Linked DNA regions of Homo sapiens. The protein of the gene in region 2 purifies or fractionates together with the protein of the main gene of each other region. This does not show direct contact. Each region holds a gene or a part of one and is shown on either strand. Other genes may lie near its edges.

What was found. The genes of interacting proteins can lie anywhere in the genome.
Region 1: the proteins of KLHL13 (region 2) and VSIG10 fractionate together in Homo sapiens (co-fractionation; one large-scale study listed by BioGRID). This does not show direct contact.

The regions. Positions count from the first base shown.
Region 1 is NC_000012.12:118,066,012-118,069,511, forward strand, and holds part of VSIG10 (V-set and immunoglobulin domain-containing protein 10 precursor), read right to left. Parts: intron 2,587-3,500; coding exon 2,366-2,586; intron 684-2,365; coding exon 628-683; 3' UTR 1-627.
Region 2 is NC_000023.11:118,106,811-118,110,310, forward strand, and holds part of KLHL13 (kelch-like protein 13), read right to left. Parts: intron 1-3,500. UniProt on the Homo sapiens protein: Substrate-specific adapter of a BCR (BTB-CUL3-RBX1) E3 ubiquitin-protein ligase complex required for mitotic progression and cytokinesis.

The DNA.
Region 1 (3,500 bases), on a different chromosome or scaffold from region 2:
GAAGCAACAGAGCCCAGATTCAACTTCAGGTGTTTCTAACTCCAAAGCCTGAACCAAACTGCCTTCCTCTGATTGGCATTGGTACCTGGAACTTCACCTGTTCCAAGGAGCTGATATTTGCAAGGTGCCGTGGCTGAGGCAGGAGAATCGCTTGAACCTGGGAGGCAGAAGTTGTGGTGAGCCAAGATCGTGCCATTGCACTCCAGCCTGGGCAATAGAGGGAGACTCCGTCTCAAAAAAAAAAAAAAAAAAAAAAAAAAGCGGCAAAAGGCACCAAGACCCAGTGCTTCCCTGACCTCTGTTCCCTCTAAATCAGCATCTATCACAGTAGATCAACCTGGATAAAGCCAGGATTCACAGCAGAAGTGGCACCTCAGACACCAAAGCAGCTTTCCTTCTCAAAGCTTTTAAACATCATTGGGAAAACTTAGAGCAAATCAAACCAATGTTTTTCAATACATGGAAGGAAAGATGTGTGTGCTTGGTTTTGTTTTTTGCTGAGACCCAAACATTGTTAGTGCAAGCCCCCGCCAGGGGTGCAGGTGGAGTCAAAGCTGAATGAAGAGCTCGTCTTCAATGTAGCTCTCCAAGCTTTCAGAGCAAGACAACCATGGACCATCCTCTTCTTCAGACTGGCCTGTCTTCTTCTTGAACAATGTCACTTTGCTCCTCACTGCTGTCATCTGTATGGGGGGAAATAAACCCAATGCTTTGTAATCAGAGTGTGATTCTATTTCCACCGTCAGTCATCAATCATCTCAGTGATTTCTAGTCCTTTCCTGGTGAGCCACAGAATGGGATCTCATGGAGAAGGTAGGGCAGCGTGTGTTTTCCCCTTTTCACCTGTTTTCTACATTCAGAACCTCTAGGCATGCTTGATACCAGTCACCCTTCATGTCCTCAGCTCACGCCCCTCCCCTCACCTGAAACGCCCTCTCTCCTTTCTGCTTATTCCAACTCAGCCGTCTTAACGCCTTGCTTCATGTCTACCTCTTCCATAAAGCTTCCCCTGACCAGCACACCTCTCCGGGCTCTTATCTTTCTCTGAGGTCCTATAAATTTTGGTGCAGTGGCACGATCTCATCTCACTGCAGCCTCAACTTCCCAGGCTCAGGTGATTCTCCCACCTCAGCCTCCCAAGTAGCTGGGGCTACAGGTACATGCCACACACCCAGCTAATTTTTTGTATTCTTAGTAGAGACACGTTTTGCCATGTTCCCAAGGCTAGTCTCGAACTCCTGAGCTCCAGCGATCCACCCACTTTGGCCTCCCAAAGTGCTGGGATTACAGGCATGAGCAACCGTGCCTATAATTTTTAAATGTGTTGTCCATCAGGCAATTAATCAAATATCTTCCTGCAACAGCTCCTCTACTGCTCTCTCAGTGTGTTGGTTCAATCTTGCTCCTGTTTCCATTTCCCCTGCAGGTTTTAGTTTGTTCCCCTAAACTGGCCTTTTTTTTTTTTTTTTTGAGACAGAGTCTCACTCTGTCACCCAGGCTGAAGTGCAGTGGCACGATCTCGGCTCACTGCAGCCTCCGTCTCCCGGGTTCAAGTGATTCTCCTGCCTTGGTCTCCCAAGTAGCTGGGATTACAGGCACCTACCACACCCAGCTGATTTTTGTATTTTTAGTAGAGATGGGGGTCTCACCATGTTGGCCAGGCTGGTCTCAAACTCCTGACCTCAAATGATCCACCTGCCTCAGCCTCCCAAAATGCTGGGATTATAGGCGTGAGCCACCGCACCTGGCCTGAACTGGTCTTGTAAAGCTCCCTGCATGCAGACACTACCAGTCTCTATTTTCTGTTCTCCCACAATGCCAATATTGTGCCTACCCTAGACCAGGACCTTGATAAGTGTTTGTCAATTTGATTTTCATGTTGGTAGTTGATAGTAGTCTCAGGTTCTAGACTAAAGTTTAGCTATCTTCCCCAGCCTTTTAAAAAAACTAAACTCACCCCTTAGAGATTTCCTGCTGGGAAGCTCACCGCAGCAGTTCAGAGGTTTGTGGGCTTTTTTTTTTTTTTTTTTTTTTCTGAGGCAGGTTTCCTACTGCTGCCCAGACTGGAGTGCAGTGGTGTGATCATAGCTCACTGCAGCCTGGACTTCCTACACTCAAGTGATCCTCAGCCTCCCAAGTAGCTGGGAACACAGGTGCACACCACCATGACCGGCTAATTTTTCTTTTTTTTTTTTTTTTTTTTCGTAGAGACAGAGTCTCACCATGTTGCCCAGGCTAGTCTTGAACTTCTGGGCTTAAGTGATCTTCCCACCTTGGCCTCCCAAAGTGCTGGGATTATAGGCGTGAGCCAACGCGCCTTTTTTTGTTTGTTTTCTGTTTGTTTGTTTAAGGAAAAAGAGCTTACCTTGAAGATCCTGGAATCCATTTCCCATCTGTTCTATGTTCCCATTCACCAAGGCGGTCACTCTGTGAATGTGGTCCTGCTTAGGTATTTCTTTTGGCAACTCCTCTCTCTCACGTGCTCCCTCCTGTTCCCCTACTGCAGCATCTTCCTCCTCCTCCTCCTCCTCCTCCTCTTCCTCTTCTGAATCCACCAAAACCATGACATCATCCATGTTTTGTCCCCTAATTTCCAAAGGGGAAAAATAATCAAGAAGATTTCTTATTTTTCCCAACTTCAGCCCTCACTGAATAGGAAACACTAGATTCTTTGCAACCCCATTAGTAATATGGAAAATTACAGCTTGGTGAAGTAATGAGGTGATGGTGTGGTAACCGCAGAGATGCTGCCACAAATTGCTTCAGATGATGGTATCTCATGCTGGTTTATTACTCCCCTGCTCCTTGGGCAGGTGACCATATTGTCCCAGGCATCTACCATTTCATGTCCCCTTACAGCAGGTAGACAAATGTTTTTCCTTTTCTGAAATGCCCTCATTCTGCTCTACTTACCAAAATCTCTCCCCTTCCTCATTTTGGAAGACCCAGGTAAAGTCCTCTCCCTCCTGCTAAAGACCTAAATTAATGACTGCATTTAGAGTCCATGCTATAGTTTATTTATCACCAGCTCACTAGCTTGCCTACCCAGCCAGACTTTGCATTTCAGACTATACATTTCTTTTTTTTTTCTTTTTCGGGATAGAGTCTTGCGCTGTTGCCCAGGCTAGAGTGCAGTGGCGCAATCTTGGCTCACTGCAACCTCCACCTCCTGGGTGCAAGCAATTCTCCTGCCTCAGCCACCCAAGTAGCTGGGACTACAGGCATGCGCCACCACATCTGGCTAATTTTTGTATTTTTAGTAGAGACATGGTTTCAACATGTTGGCCAGGCTGGTCTCGAATGCCTGGCCTCAAGTGATCCAACCACCTTGGCCTCCCAGAGTGCTGAGATTATAGGCATGAGCCACTGTTGTGCCCGGCCTGGACTGTGCATTTCTTCTTCTTCTTCTTCTTCTTTTTTTTTTTTTTTTTGAGACAGAGTTTCATTCTTGTTGCCCAGGCTGGAGTGCAATGGCACAATCATGGCTCACCGCAACCTCT
Region 2 (3,500 bases):
GTTCTCAATACTCCATTTAGACTTATCCATTCATTTATCAAAGGTACTATCAAACTTTTATCTTCTCTTAGGGTATTATTTGATTTGTTATTACAGTAACCATGATAAAAACTTGAAATAACCATAACAACTCAAAATCCATAGGAAGACATTATTCACAACAGAATTATACCTCTTCCCAATGGCTTAACTATTACAAATGCTTCAGTATTTTCTTCTTTGGGGACTTAAAATCTGGAACAATTAGAGATAAATCAGAAAAATGTGTGACCCCTGTGATTATCAGAAAACCAAATGTTTTCATGTTTAAAAGATAACATTGTTCATAGTATACATTATCCTGCATAACCCTTTTCCTTCAAAATGGATATTAAAATTTAAAATCCTATTAACCCAAACAGTATCACATTTAAATATATATTGGGCTAATTGTATTAAAAACTGACATTTTTCTTGGAATCAATGTGATGCCATATTTGAGTAAGTAATAAGCCAACATTCACCATAAACTTTCTTGTCTGCCAGAAAACTAGTGTTACTTCTAAACAGTCTACTCACCATTTACGAGATGCACATTCGAAAAATAGCATTCCAGCTAGGATTAAGACAATATAAACAAAGAAGACACACAATTTCCCCTCACATTTCTGCTTCATATATGATTGGCCAAGGTCCTATAGTATGCTCCAAGTTATCAACTAATTTAGCCACAAATCTATGAAAATAATAATAAGTATAGTTATATTTCATATGTGGCTTAAGTGTGCTTAGCACTCTATACGCATTATTAATTTAATCCTTAAACTAGATGAGATAGTTTACAAGGGAGATAAACAAGGCTCAGAGAGGTGAAGCAAGTTGCCCAACAAAAGGCAGTCAGGATTTGAACCCAAGCCTATGATTCCAGGGTTCAAGATCATAGCCATTAAGCTCTACTGCCTTTCCACTAAGAAATATCTGAGAGTGAGGCCAGGTGCAGTGGCTCATGTCTGTAATCCCAGCAAACTGGGAGGCTGAGGCAGGAGGATTGCTTGAGCTCAGGACCAGCCTGAGCAACATGGTGAAACCCTGTCTCTACAAAAAATACATAAAATTAGCCAGGCGTGGTGGCATGCACCTGCAGTCCCAACTACTTGGGAGGCTGAGGTGGGAAGATCACTTGAACTTGGGAGGTTGAAGCTGTAGTGAGCCTTGACTTTGCACCACTGCACTCCAGCCTGAGTGACAGAATGAGACCCTGTCTTAAAAGAAAAAAGAAACATCCAAGAGTGGAACAGAAAACTTTGTTGAAATGAAGTGATCTTTAGAAATGTATCACCATTTTTTTAAAAGTGGGACCAAGAAAGAAAACTCTACAAACTACAAGCAAAACTCTTATCTCCTTTTACTGAATAGACTGTAAAAGCACTTCACCTGTAGACGATAAAGACCATCCACTAATCACAATCCTCTATACCCATGTCCTTACAAGATTTGAGCAGTAACACAACAATATAACAATGTCAGGCCCTGTGAACTATGTCTGGCATGGAACAACAACAATGAAAGTGGGACTGCAATAATGAAAATCAGTTGAAAGATTTAGTGTTTGACTTACTCCATTTACTTTCACCCCCTTTCTTCACTTGCCTTTTTCTTCTTCATCTTTCTCATCTGGAGCAAATTAAACCATCACGTTGTAACAGGCATTCCTCCAATGCTCTGCTGGCCTATTTTCAAAACCATCTCAAACTGTAGAAACCTTTTATCAACCTCAAAGCACTTAATCCTTGACAACTTTCTTCTAGTATTAACTATTTCAGTGGCCAGCAATTAACAAACCAATTTGTATACTATGCTGTAAATGAAAGCAGCTTTAAAGTTAGCAAAAGTGAACTTCAAATCAGTGAGACAGGCAAGTGTGCACAGAACAAGGCAAAGCTTTGACACCATGAACTGTGCTGCTTTAAGTTTGTGGTCCTTGTGTTCTAATAACCTCTAGCCTTTTTTAAAAATTTTTTTAGATTTTTTTTTTGAGACAGGGTCTCACTCCGTCACCCAGACTGAAGAGCAGTGGTGTGATTGTAGCCCACGGCAACCTTGAACTCCTGGGCTCAAGGGATCCTCCTGCCTAAACCTCTCGAGTAGCTGAGACTATAGGCGTGTGCCTCCATGCCCAGCTAATTTTTAAATTTTTTTTTGTTCTTATAGAGACAGGGTCTCGCTTTGTTGCCCAGGATGGTCTTGAACTCCTGGGCTCAAGCAATGCTCCCGCCTAGGCGTCCCAAAGTGTTGGGATAACAGGAGTGAGCCACTGCGTCAGGCCTAATAACCTCTATTCTGAAAATATCATTCCCTAGGCAGGTCCTTCATAGTCACTCTTAGCCATTACCCACCAACATTAAAAACTCTGTAAGAACTCAACACATGTTTAGATTTAGACCATTAGACCAAGGGTAACCAACATGTACCCTTGAAATTGCGCAACAGAGAAAAACATTTATGTCCATTAACTTTCCCACAGGTCATCATGGGAATTTACGGCTATGAAAATGTTTGGGTGTTTGACTAAAAGAACAGATTCGGGCAGTACAGCACCACCTCAGTGCTTTCCAAAGGGTCATCTCAGGGTTACCACAGCTGCCCTTGCAAGCAGAGACTTTCTCTGAAATATTGGGGTTTGCCTCAGATTTTCTATGAATATTGCGTTCTAAGGCAGAATGTATCTGAATTTGTTTAAAGATTTTTAAATAGCTACCAGTTAATGTTCTCCTAAATCTCTGTGTAAAACAGATGCTTCAAGAAAATACAAGCTGCTTTATTTTGTGGCTCCTGGGAGCACCACCTTGTCACCACCCTGCTCAATCAGTACATGTGCTCCACTTTGAAGGACCCAAAGTAATGGAAAGAGCACTAGACAGAGATTCTATTTGTTTAGACTAGCACAATGCTTGGAATATAATAGGCACTTAATAAGTATTTGTTGAATGAATTGGCAGAATAGTTTCAAGGACTAGTTTTCAACTGCAAGAAAACTGCAGAAAAAATCCTTTGAGACATGTAATTACTGGCAACCCCACAAAACCGAAGGAAAAAAAAACAGGCCAGGTACAGTGGCTCATGCCTGTAATCCCAATACTTTGGGAGGCCACAGCATGAGGATCACTTGAGGCCAGGGGTTCAACACCAGCCTGGGCAACATAGTGAGACCTCATCTCTACCAAAAACAAAAGAAAATACACCAATTGTGTATTGGTAAAGAACAAGAAAATCCATGTTGTTTTAGTTTAGTTAGAAAGGAAAAGGCTGTCAAGATGTTATATAAAGATAATACTGAGGGGGGTTGTGTTAGGATAATTAAAACCCAATTCATATCATGGACGCTAAGAAGAGTTTTCAATTAACTCTTGGGTTTTCCTTTGCATGTTTTTAATCTTAATGATGTCAAGTTTACAGAGGAAAATAAAGAATTGTAACGCACACTCATGTCCCCATGTAACCATGCAGGGCGCTGGGGCTAA